2 separate regions of the Homo sapiens genome follow, and region 2 is linked to region 1. Evidence: fine-mapped expression QTL. Tissue or cell type: whole blood. Region 1 holds a variant in brackets; the other region holds the start of a gene. All regions are shown on one strand. Distances are from middle to middle.

What was found. PIP is the estimated chance that this variant, and not a neighbour inherited with it, causes the effect.
Region 2: TBC1D2 starts here. The variant in region 1 is fine-mapped to the expression of TBC1D2 in whole blood (TOPMed, PIP above 0.99).

What each region holds. Positions count from the first base shown.
Region 1 is chr9:98,196,776-98,201,966 of GRCh38, forward strand. TBC1D2 (TBC1 domain family member 2) reads right to left here. Exons shown (of 13, transcript NM_001267571.2): 11 at 4,704-4,889; 12 at 3,478-3,599; 13 at 2,236-2,813. The coding sequence ends at 2,606. Among named protein-coding and RNA genes, the nearest start is that of CORO2A, 6.7 kb to the left of the region's middle. RefSeq lists enhancers at 1,478-2,345, 2,346-3,213, 4,454-4,955, 4,601-4,650, 4,956-5,191. The variant C/T (reference allele first, on the strand shown) is at 2,871.
Region 2 is chr9:98,253,532-98,258,659 of GRCh38, forward strand. It overlaps TBC1D2 (TBC1 domain family member 2), which reads right to left and starts at 2,118. Exons shown (of 13, transcript NM_001267571.2): 1 at 1,642-2,118. The coding sequence starts at 2,010. RefSeq lists a silencer at 2,133-2,182 and an enhancer at 2,353-2,842.

The sequences.
Region 1 (5,191 bases):
TGAACTCCTGGCCTCAAGTGATCCACCCGCCTTGGCCTCCCAAAGTCCTGGGATTACCAGCGTGAGCCACGGCGCCTGGCCTACTCAGGTGATTCTCAGGTGCAGCCAGGTAGGAACCAGAGGTTACATTATGCTGGGTCAAATACAAAGTACCACCCACCCCTCTCCACAGGAGGGGAGGGAAAGAGCACAGACACTCAGCTCTGAGCAGAGCTTCTCCTCTGCCTGGGGTTGGGGGGATGTGGGGAGACGGAGGAGAGAGGAAGAGAAGTGGAGAGGGGGAAGAGAGGGAAGAAGAAAAGGGGGGAAGAGGGGAGAAAGGAGGAAGAAGGGAAGGAGAGGAGAATGGGGAAAGAGAAAAAGGGGGATGAGGGAGGACGGGGAGGAAGGAGGGAAGGGGAGGTGGAGGAGGGGGAGGGAAGGGGAGGGAAAAAGGTAGAGGTGGGCTGCCATTTATCCAATAGCCCCTGTGCCCGTTGCCTGATTCTTTTTTGATTGTTGTTGCTGAAGAGGGAATGTGAATTTCAAGGCTAAAGGCAGAGGGACCGCCTGGGCCAGAGCTCCCAGGCAGCCTTGGGGCTTTTGCAGGCCTCAGGGCCCTGCAGGTGGTGTTTCCTTCGTAAGACGGCTGCTCAGGCCGGGTGCGGTGGCTCACGCTTGTAATCCCAGCACTTTGGGAGGCTGAGGCAGGCAGATCACGAGGTCAGGAGATTGAGACCATCCTGGCTAACATGGTGAAACCCTGTCTGTACTAAAAATACAAAAATTAGCTGGGCGTGGTGGCGCATACCTGTAATCCCAGCTACTCGGGAGGCTGAGGCAGGAGAATCGCTTGAACCAGGGAGTCAGAGGTTGTTGTGAGCCGAGATTGCGCCACTGCACTCCAGCCTGGCAGCAGAGGGAGGCTCCGTCTCAAAAAAAAAAAAAAAAATAGGGCTGCTCGTTCCCATCGGTGGCACTTTCCTCTGTGCCAGGCTCCAGGCTCTGCACCAGTTTACCTGCTTTAGCCCTCCTGGGAGCCCCATGGGGCTGGACCTCTCATCATCCCGATGACCAACTTAGGGGCGCAGTATCTAGCTTGTCCAGGGTGCAGCTGGGACCCCCAGGCCGCCCTCATGCCACCATCACACTTCATAAACAGTTTGGTGCTGAAAGGGCCTTAGCGAATGAAAAAAGTTTAGCAATGAGAAAGGCAGTCAAGCCCCAATGCAGGGTGTTCACAGAAAAGTGGAGCCCTCGGGCCAGCCAGGAGCCCACGTGGACAGGGAGGAGAGGAACCCTGAGCGTCTCCTCCCTGAGGCTGCACAGGCGGTGCAGTGTAGGGAACTGGGAGCCTGGTGGGCCAACCCCTCAAATTCACACCTGTGGGTGACAGTGGGGCTAGGGACCAGCCAGGGCCACCACGGGGCCCGTCCATGGTCCCCAGTGATGGGGAAAGTTTCCTCCCCAGCCTGGATGGGAGCCTCAGATCAGAGCCAGGAGGTTCCAGGGCAGCGTCCCCTAATCCTCGGTGGTTTTCCAGAGAGGAGGCTTCCATGTGAGAACCCCCAGTCCTTCATACCAAAGACAGCCAACTCAAGGCTAGGCCAGCACAGACACAGGTTTTGCTGAGAAATGAGTTGCCAAAGTCACTGGTATGGCCTTGACCCCCTGCCTCGGGTGGGGACAGACTGAAGCCTCTATTTGCTGAGGAGGGACCTGGAGGAGGCTGACGCTGGGTTGGGGCCACGGTGGGTGCTGTGACGAGCCAGCCCTGGCTTGCGCTGCAGCAGTCCCTACTTCCCACCTTCTCCCATCCTCCCAACCACCCATTTTTCAGAGGAGAGGTAACCCTCCGTGCCCCAGCCTGTGAAGTGGGCAGTGGGAGGTCACAAGTGGGGCACCTGACCCAGGGCTCTCTGCCCAACCCCCACACCAAGTTCCTGGTGGTGGTGCACAGGGGGTTTCCCTGGGATCCCCCCAAAATGGGCTGTGAGCAGAAAGGAGGGCACAGGGGCCGGGCTTTGGAAACAGGCTTCAGTACACGGAGAGCGTCCCGGAATGCAGACCCAGGCAGTATTGAAAAGGAGCTGCTACCCAGAAAGACAAAACCCTAACATCTCAGGGAACCAGGCAGGGGCTGGCCCTGCAGACGCTCACAGAAATAGCAGCCAGAGATGCCCTAGGCTGGAAGCCTGGTGGTGGCACACCCTGGCACCGTGGGCCCATCCAGGAACAACTGGTAACTGAGAACTGTTTAAGTTCCAAAGCTTATGAATGATTTCCACCATTTACATTGTTTTATATTGATATAACCTAGAGAATGTTCCAGGTTACCCTATAGAGGCAGTGCTCTTGCTTGTTTACATGCCAAAGTGCTCTGTGGAAGAGGTGACGAAAGGGTGGCATCCCTGGGTAAGTAAGTGCCTATGAAGAAGTAGCCCAACCAATGGCTTTGCAGCACACAATGTCCCAGTGGGGAAACTGAGGGCCAGAGAGGGGAAGGGACATGTCCAAGGTCACATGGTGATGGGACACCCAGGGCTGGGCCACTGGTCCGTGCCTGACCTCCAGTGGGTCTGCCAGCCAAGGGTGAGGAAGGCTGTGGGGAGGGGAGGTGGCCAAGTCAGGCTTCCCCCTCCACCTCGTCCTCGCTGGCACAGCCCTCGGACACAGCTCTGCGCCGGGATGCCCGCCTCTCCAGGTACTCTGCCTTAAGCTGCTCCAGCTCCCGCAGCTCAGCCTCCAGCCGCTCCCGGTGGACCATGCGCAGCTGCCGCAGCTGTTTCATGCGGAAGGGGTTCATGTCATTGAAGGCGATGTTCATCAGCTTCCTGGGAGGAGGGCACAATCAGCCCAGAGCACGTCACCCCACCTGGCCGGCGTTTACC[C/T]GGCTCTCCCAGACAGACATCCCCGCATTCCTTCTGCCTTTGTGGCTGAGCCCTGACCCCTGCCCTCAGGAGGAAACAATGAATAAGATGATTTCCACCCACAGAGATATGTACTGAGGCAGGAGGAAGATCAGAAGAAAGACACCTAACCCAGCAGGGAAGGGCTGGTCAGGGAAGGCTTCTTGGAGGAGGTGACCCACGTGTGAGCTGAGTTTTAAGGAATGAATAAAAGGTGACCAGGCAAAGAAGATAGTGGTGGTGGAAGTGGCAAGGAGGCATTCTAAGTAAAAGAAACTGCAAGAGCAAAAGCCCAAAGGTGGGGTTGTCCTAGGAACTCGTATAATTCTGTTTTCCAGGATCACTGGCCATGGGTGTTCAGGGTAGGGGAAGGTGGGCAAAAAATGAAACTCCATGGAGGCCTCAAATGCCATGTTAAGGGGGCAGACATATCACTCAGACAGTCAGACTTCCCCAAAGATTTCTAAGCTATAATACGAGCATCAGCGTCACTTACCAATCTCTACTTGGCAAACATCAGCCTCCCCTCTGCTATGTGTCCTTGGGGGTGTGTGAGTGGTGGGAGTGGCAGGGGGTGGGGGTTCCTCACCGGCTGTTGGAGATGGTCTTGGTGAAGAAGCGCAGGTACTGGTAGATTTCCAGGCCATTCTGTAGCCTCAAGATCTCCTTCTCGTTGTACTTGAAAATGGCCAAGGCATAGCGAAACACCACCTGGGGGTAGAGTGGGGGCTCAGGTAGGGCATGGGGGGGCCAGGCAGGTCATCCCCGGAGGGAGGGAACCTGACAGACTTGGGCAGTATGGAAGACCCTGGACTGGCTGCGGAAGTTGAGGCCTGGAGGCACAATGTGTGGGGATAGGCTCCAGGGGGCTGGGGGAGACTGAATACCCCGGCGGGGTGGTGGGGGGGCGGGGGAAGGGACGCACAGCTTGAAATCTGGGGATTTGGACAGAGTCCTGGCTCTAGCCTGTCTTGTCCCATGACTGTGGGTGAGGCACGGCCCCTGTTGAATCTCATGGAGTTAATCTGTATCTTTACGTGGGGCTTTGGCAAGAACCAGATGAAATGACAGGCCAGACACAGTGGCTCATGCCAGTAATTCCAGCACTTTGGAAGGCTGACACGGGTGGATCATCTGAGGTCAGGAGTTCGAGACCAGCCTGGCCAACATGATGAAACCCCATCTCTACTAAAAATACAAAAATTAGCCAGGTATGGTGTTGCATGCCTGTAATCCCAGCTACTCCGGAGGTTGAGGCAGGAGAACTGCTTGAACCTGGGAGGCAGAGGTTGCAGTGAGCGGAGATCGTGCCACTGCACTACAGCCTTGGTGACAGAGCAAGGCTCCATCTCAAAAAAAAAAAAAAAGAAAGAAAGAAATGAGAAATCTGTGGGTGCTTTGTAAACTGAGGTGTAAACTAGGGCTGAGTTGGGGGACCTGCCCAAGGTCTCTGGGCAAGGTCAGTACAGAGCTGGGTCCAGACCTGAGCTCCGATCTCTTAATCCAAGGTTTAGTCCAAACAGGAGGAAGAAAAGGAGGGCCCAGGTGACTAGGGGGCAAGGACAGCATAGGGATGTGCCTCTCTGATCATGCTCACACCTCCTCTCCACGGAAAGGAAATCCCCCAACTTCAGAGGCAGAACCACTACTTCTCATACATGCAAAGCATTTTGCAGTTGACAATGCTCTCAGGAGACGTTCAACAGCTCTGACAAGTAAGCATTGTCTTCCCATTCTCCAGGGGCAGAGTCAAGACGCAGATGGGTGAAGGGACTTGCTCAGGGGCCCCCTGCCCATCCCCTGGCTGCACCCTACCTTCGTCCCCTCGTACAGGAAGGCATCCCAGACCCGAAGGAGGATGTTGCTAATGAGACTGTCCGCAAAGACCACGAGGAACCAGTTGAAGGTGACGAGGGAGAGATCCACGTGGTGCTGCCCCAGATGGGCCATCAGCCTGGGCAGCTTCTCCGAGAGCAGGTCCTGGAGCACCCGCTGGTCCACCTGGAAGCCAGCGAGAGGGCCTGTCATCTGCAGCCCCAGCGTAGGGCTGCCTCCCTCCCTGCCCAGCCTTCCTACCCAGTCAGTCCACACACAATCCTGAAGCTGCTCTGGGCAGGTCCTTTCCTGCCCAGGAGACACCTCGGGGAGCCAGGGGCCAGTCTAGCTGGGAGTCAGGTACAGCATCATATCACTCCGCTGCTCCTAATATAGGCCAGAGTCCTCTGGACTGGGGCACTGGGCTCTGCAGTGGAGCCATGTGGGCTGGCACGTTCTCCGCCCGCTCACCCATCTGAATCCCTTGA
Region 2 (5,128 bases), 57 kb after region 1:
CTCTTCAACTCCATCCTTTGGGCCCCTCTGTTTTTCTGGCTCATGTGATTTGCCTGGACACTCAGGGCTGTATCATGGTTTCCTAATTTGCTCACGGTGCTCTCTTGGCCTGGAATACCTTTCTCCCTCTTGTCTGCTTGCCACCTATTTCTTCTTTCAAGCCTTGGGTGTGTCCCTCCTCCAGATGCCTTTCTGGCTAGCCCCTTCCACTTGGTGGAACTGACTCCTCCTGTCACCACACCTTCTTGCACAGACTTATCACATGTCTCTACAGAACATTTCAGGGTGCATGCAGGTTCTCCCTCAGTCTCTCCCACCAGACTTTAAGCTGTCAGAGAACCAGGGGTGGGGGTGCATTAGCTCCACACCCCGCCAAGCGCAGAGCCAGGAACAATGGAATACTATTATAAAGACCATGTGTTGAAGACCCTGCATACAGCAGTCAACCTGTGGAAGAGACACATAGACCCGGGAACCACATGACCTCGAAAATGCCTTCCCTGGCCAGGGATTCCTGAGTTTCATTATTTTAACCAAGTCCCCCAGCCTGGTCACCCGCCAAGTCCAGTCAGTAAAGGAGAACTGAACACGTGGGCATCCACAGATACCCACTTAGCTGGAGTTGGGGTTGGAGGGGTGGACAGATGGGGATGGGGTGGGGAAGGCTATCTCCTGGCACATTCTTCTCTGATGCCCATAGAACACTTAGCCCAGATCTGTCTTTCCAATTAAGTTATGGGACACCTCCTCTTGACATTAGCACTCTGACCTTGGTTCCATCACCTTGTGTGTGCATGTGTGCTTATGCAACAAAAAATTATTAAGTACTCCACTAGGTACCAGGCTGTATTCTAGGTGATGCAATTAATTCAACAATTTGTACATGCCTGTGATGTGTCAAATGCTTACAAACCACCTAGGTTCTGAGAGGTTAAGTAACTTGTCCAGGGTCACACAGCTAGTAAGTAGCAAATGTACAATTTGAATCCAAGCCCGTCTGATTTCAAAGAATGTGGCCTTTCTACTGCTTTAGGCTTTCTCAGTTACACATGATGATAAAACCTACCCCTTGCTGCTGATAGGAAAACAGGTTTAAGCATGCCTAGATGAACAATCTAGGCTGATCAGTGAAACCTAAGTGTTTATTTTCCTAATCCCTGCCAGTCTCTTCTCAGCATTCACTGACCTTGGCCAAAATATCAAGAAACGGGAATCAGAATCCTGGCCTTGAGAGAGGATTGCAAAGACCATATTTTGACTTACTTAGGTCCCAGGTAAGAAAGTTAAGGTAACTGCACTGTCAGGCACACCCAAAAGTAAAAGTTTTGATTCAGCACTGAGAGGTAGAAAGACTATGGGATTCCAAGCTACCCTACTCTCTAGACGCATGGACCTCGAGCCAGTCCTTTCATCTCCCTCTGACTCAGTTTCTTGATCCGTAAAATGGGTCTGTCTTCCCTGCCTTGTGGGAACCCAATGAGGAAATGGGTGGGAATGCACTTTGCAAAGCACAAAGTTCTTGGAACTGTCGTCACCGACACTCCAAATTTACTGTGTCCACCTCACACTCGCGCCCAGCCTTGCCCTGCGAAAAGGGGACCTCACGCCGCTGGAAAGGAGAAAGTCGTTGCAGGAATTTACCTTCAGGGTAATAACCCGGCTGGGAGTCTTGATTTCGAAGATCCCCTCCTCAGCGTCCGCCTTACAGTCAAACACTGCACTGGAGAGGTCGATGCTGTCCAAGGGATTGGCATCCTGAGCGGTCCGCGAGTAATACAGCTGACATTTCCTTTCGTCGTAGAAGAACCAGCGGGATTTCCAGCCCCGGATGGGCCCTTTGCCGCCGAACTTACTTAAATACCCACAGAGTTTCTTGGGGACCGCCTCCAGGGACCGGGCGCAGTCCCCCGATTCTTCCTCCGGAGGCGGCACCTGTGGATCCCTGGCAGACTCTTCGGACCCAGGGGCAGAGGAGCTGGACTCCGGGGCGTTCTCCCCAGCGCCCTCCATCGCTGCCAGCCGGAGACTGCGGAGGGACGAGGGGTCCGCGGGACCACCAGGGACAAATCTCGGAGACTCGGCGGGCAGCTTCCCAAAGGGAGACACCTGGGCGGGGGCGGGGCCGACGGCGAACCCGCCCCCAGGAAGCCACAGAGTCGGGACCGGGTGCGGTGCGCGCGCCTCAAAGATCGCAAACCCAGGTTACGGCGGCTGGCCACGCCCCTCCACCGCCAGGCCACGCCCCCGCAGCGCTCAGTCGGCTCCCTGCAAAGCCCAGCTGCTTCCGGCTTTTTCTCCGCGCCAGTCAGCCATCTTTACTGAGGGCAGCCGTGCTCCCTGGCTTCAGGTTAAAGGCGTGGTGGCACTGAGTTAGGTTAACCGCGGGCAGAGAAGCCTGTCCCTAGCTACACTTCCCTGGTAGTTCGCATAGTCACCTAGAAAGATAGTGCTTTCTTGCACCCGATGGGCTGCTTGTTCCCTCCCTGTGCCGCGCGGGGCACCCTCGGACGGCGCATCTCGCGGCCATTGGCTGAAAGGAAGACCGCTGGGAGGCCCATCTTCCGGCGTCGCCCGGGCAGCGCGGCTCCGGAGCTGTCTGCCACTCTTCTCCTGGTGTTCCTTCAGCCCCGTCAGTGACGCCGCGGACGGCCTTCTTATCCCTCGCCTGACAGCAGTGGCCTCCCCAGCTCTCTGTCCTGGCTCCTATTCGCCTCCTGACAGCGCTGGTTGTGTTGCTTGGGGCGCCCAGGCGCGGCCGCTGCGCTGCGGAAACCCATGCCACTCCTGGGTCATAGTTGGGTGCAGTACATTTATTTTTATTTTGTTATTGCTATTATTATTTTTAGAGACGGTCTGGCTCTGTCACCCAGGCTGGAGTGCAGTGGCGCGATCAGAGCTCACTGCAGTCTCCGCCTCCCGGTCTCAAGCCATCCTCCCGCCTCAGTCTCCCGAGTAGCTGAGACCGCAACTGCGCACCACCACACCCGGCTAATTTTTAAATTGTTTTTTGCAGAGAGGGGGGTCTTGAACTCCTGGCCTCAAGCGATTCTCCTGCCTCGGCCTCCTAAAGTGCTGGAATTACAGGCGAGAGCCACCGCGCCAGGCTGTTTTGTAAATAAGTAAAAGAATTTAGGGTTTGACTAACTTGCTCAACTTCTGCCTCATTTTACCTGTTTCCCCTTAAACTTCTCCCCTTCCCTCCTAAGGCGCATTTCTCCATTAGGGTTGCGGAGCCCAATTGCGTCCAGCTTTCTTTAGGAGCTTCTTTCTGCCTTTCTCTTGCCCTTTGTTCAGCCTTTCCTCTTACTTCATCGTCTCCCCCTCAGCCGTCGTTAACGAGACCCTCATGCACACTCAGTGATATTGACAAGAAGCAGGGTGGGGGTAAAGGCGAGGGCTCTAGAGTCTATTTGCATAATTTTCAGATTCCCACTCTGCAATACTGAGTGATTTGCTCAACCTAAAAATGGAGATAACACTTCTTCCTACCCACCCCCGACCCGCCGCCAGACAACTTTACGGTGAAGCTAATGAAATTTATGTTCACTTGCATGGGTCGCTGGGATTTGTAGTCTAACAGGTGGGGAGTTGCAACCAGGGAGCATTTCTCCTAAATGCCAGAGAGCTCTTCATTTGTTATAATTTACAATTTATTTTCTCATTCTAAATAACCATCGTCATACCTAATTTTGTGTTCATAATTTTGTAATTTTTTAAAAATCAGAAGGCCCTTAATGCTGTTTAATTCCAGTCCCCACAAAACCTGGATCTACACCTGTCTACCCTTAGAGTTGTTTTGATAATTAAATAAAATAATATGTGTGAAGCTCTTAGTACAGAATGTGGGACAAAATATTTCTTTTCTTTTCGAGACAGAGTTTCGCTCTTGTTGCGCAGGCTGGAGTGCAATGGCGCGATCTCGGCTCACCGTGACCTCCGCCTCCCGGATTCAAGCGATTCTCCTGCCACCGCACCCAGCCAGTTTCTTTTCTTTTCTTTTTTTTTAATTTTTTTTTTTTTTTTTTTTTTTGATACAGAGTCTCGCTCTGTCGCCCAAGCTGGAGTGCAGTGGCATGCTCTCCAATTCCCATTCTCCTGCCTCAGCCTCCCGAGTAGCTGGGATTACATACACGCGTCACCATACCCAGCTAATTTTTGTATTTTTAGTTGAGACGGGGTTTCACCATGTTGGCTAGGATGGTCTGGATCTCCTGACCTTGTGATCCACCGGCCTTGGCCTCCCAAAGTGCTGGGATTACAGGCATGAGCCACAGTGCCTGGCCCCATTCCTGATTTTTAAAACCTCTTAATAAAACAAACAGCATACCTTATTTGTTCTAGGTTTTGTAGCTAGGCAATGATAAATATTTGAAAGAATAATTATAAATATATTACGTATACCAGAAAAACTCAAGTGGTGGCCTGTTTTAAAAAACTGTGCATATGTGTATAGATGTCTCCAGCAGCAAACAAATGGAAAATATAATGGACAACATCCCTTACATAAATGACTTACATAATGAATACCTTATTGCTTTATAGTAGGATATAAGACAAACCAAATATGTCCCTGAGTGGGAAGAGTTAATATTGTAAAGATGTCACATTCCTCAAATTAATCCATACAGTTAATACATTTTCAATCAAACTCTCGATAGGCTTTTTTTTTTTTTTTTTTTTTGAGACAGAGTCTTGCTCTGTCACCCAGGCTGGAGTGCACTGGAGCGGTATCGGCTCACTGCAACCTCTGCCTCCTGGGTTTAAGCTATTCTCCTGCCTCAGCCTCCCTAGTAGCTGGGACCACAGGCAGGGCACCATGCTCAGCTAATTTTTGTATTTTCAGTAGCGATGGGGTTTCACCATGTTGGCCAGGCTGGTCTTGAATTCCTGACCTCAAGTGATCCATCCACTTCAGCCTCCCAAAGTGCTAGGATCACAGGTGTGAGCCACCATGCCTGGCCTCGATAGGCTTTAAAAAAACTTTTTATTTTTGAATAGTTTTAGAAAAAGTTACAGAGACAATGGGAGAATTTCTGTAGACCCTACACCCAGTTTCCCCTAATGTTAACATTTTGCTTAATCCTGGTATGTTTGGCAAAAATAAACATCTAACATTGGTACAAAACTA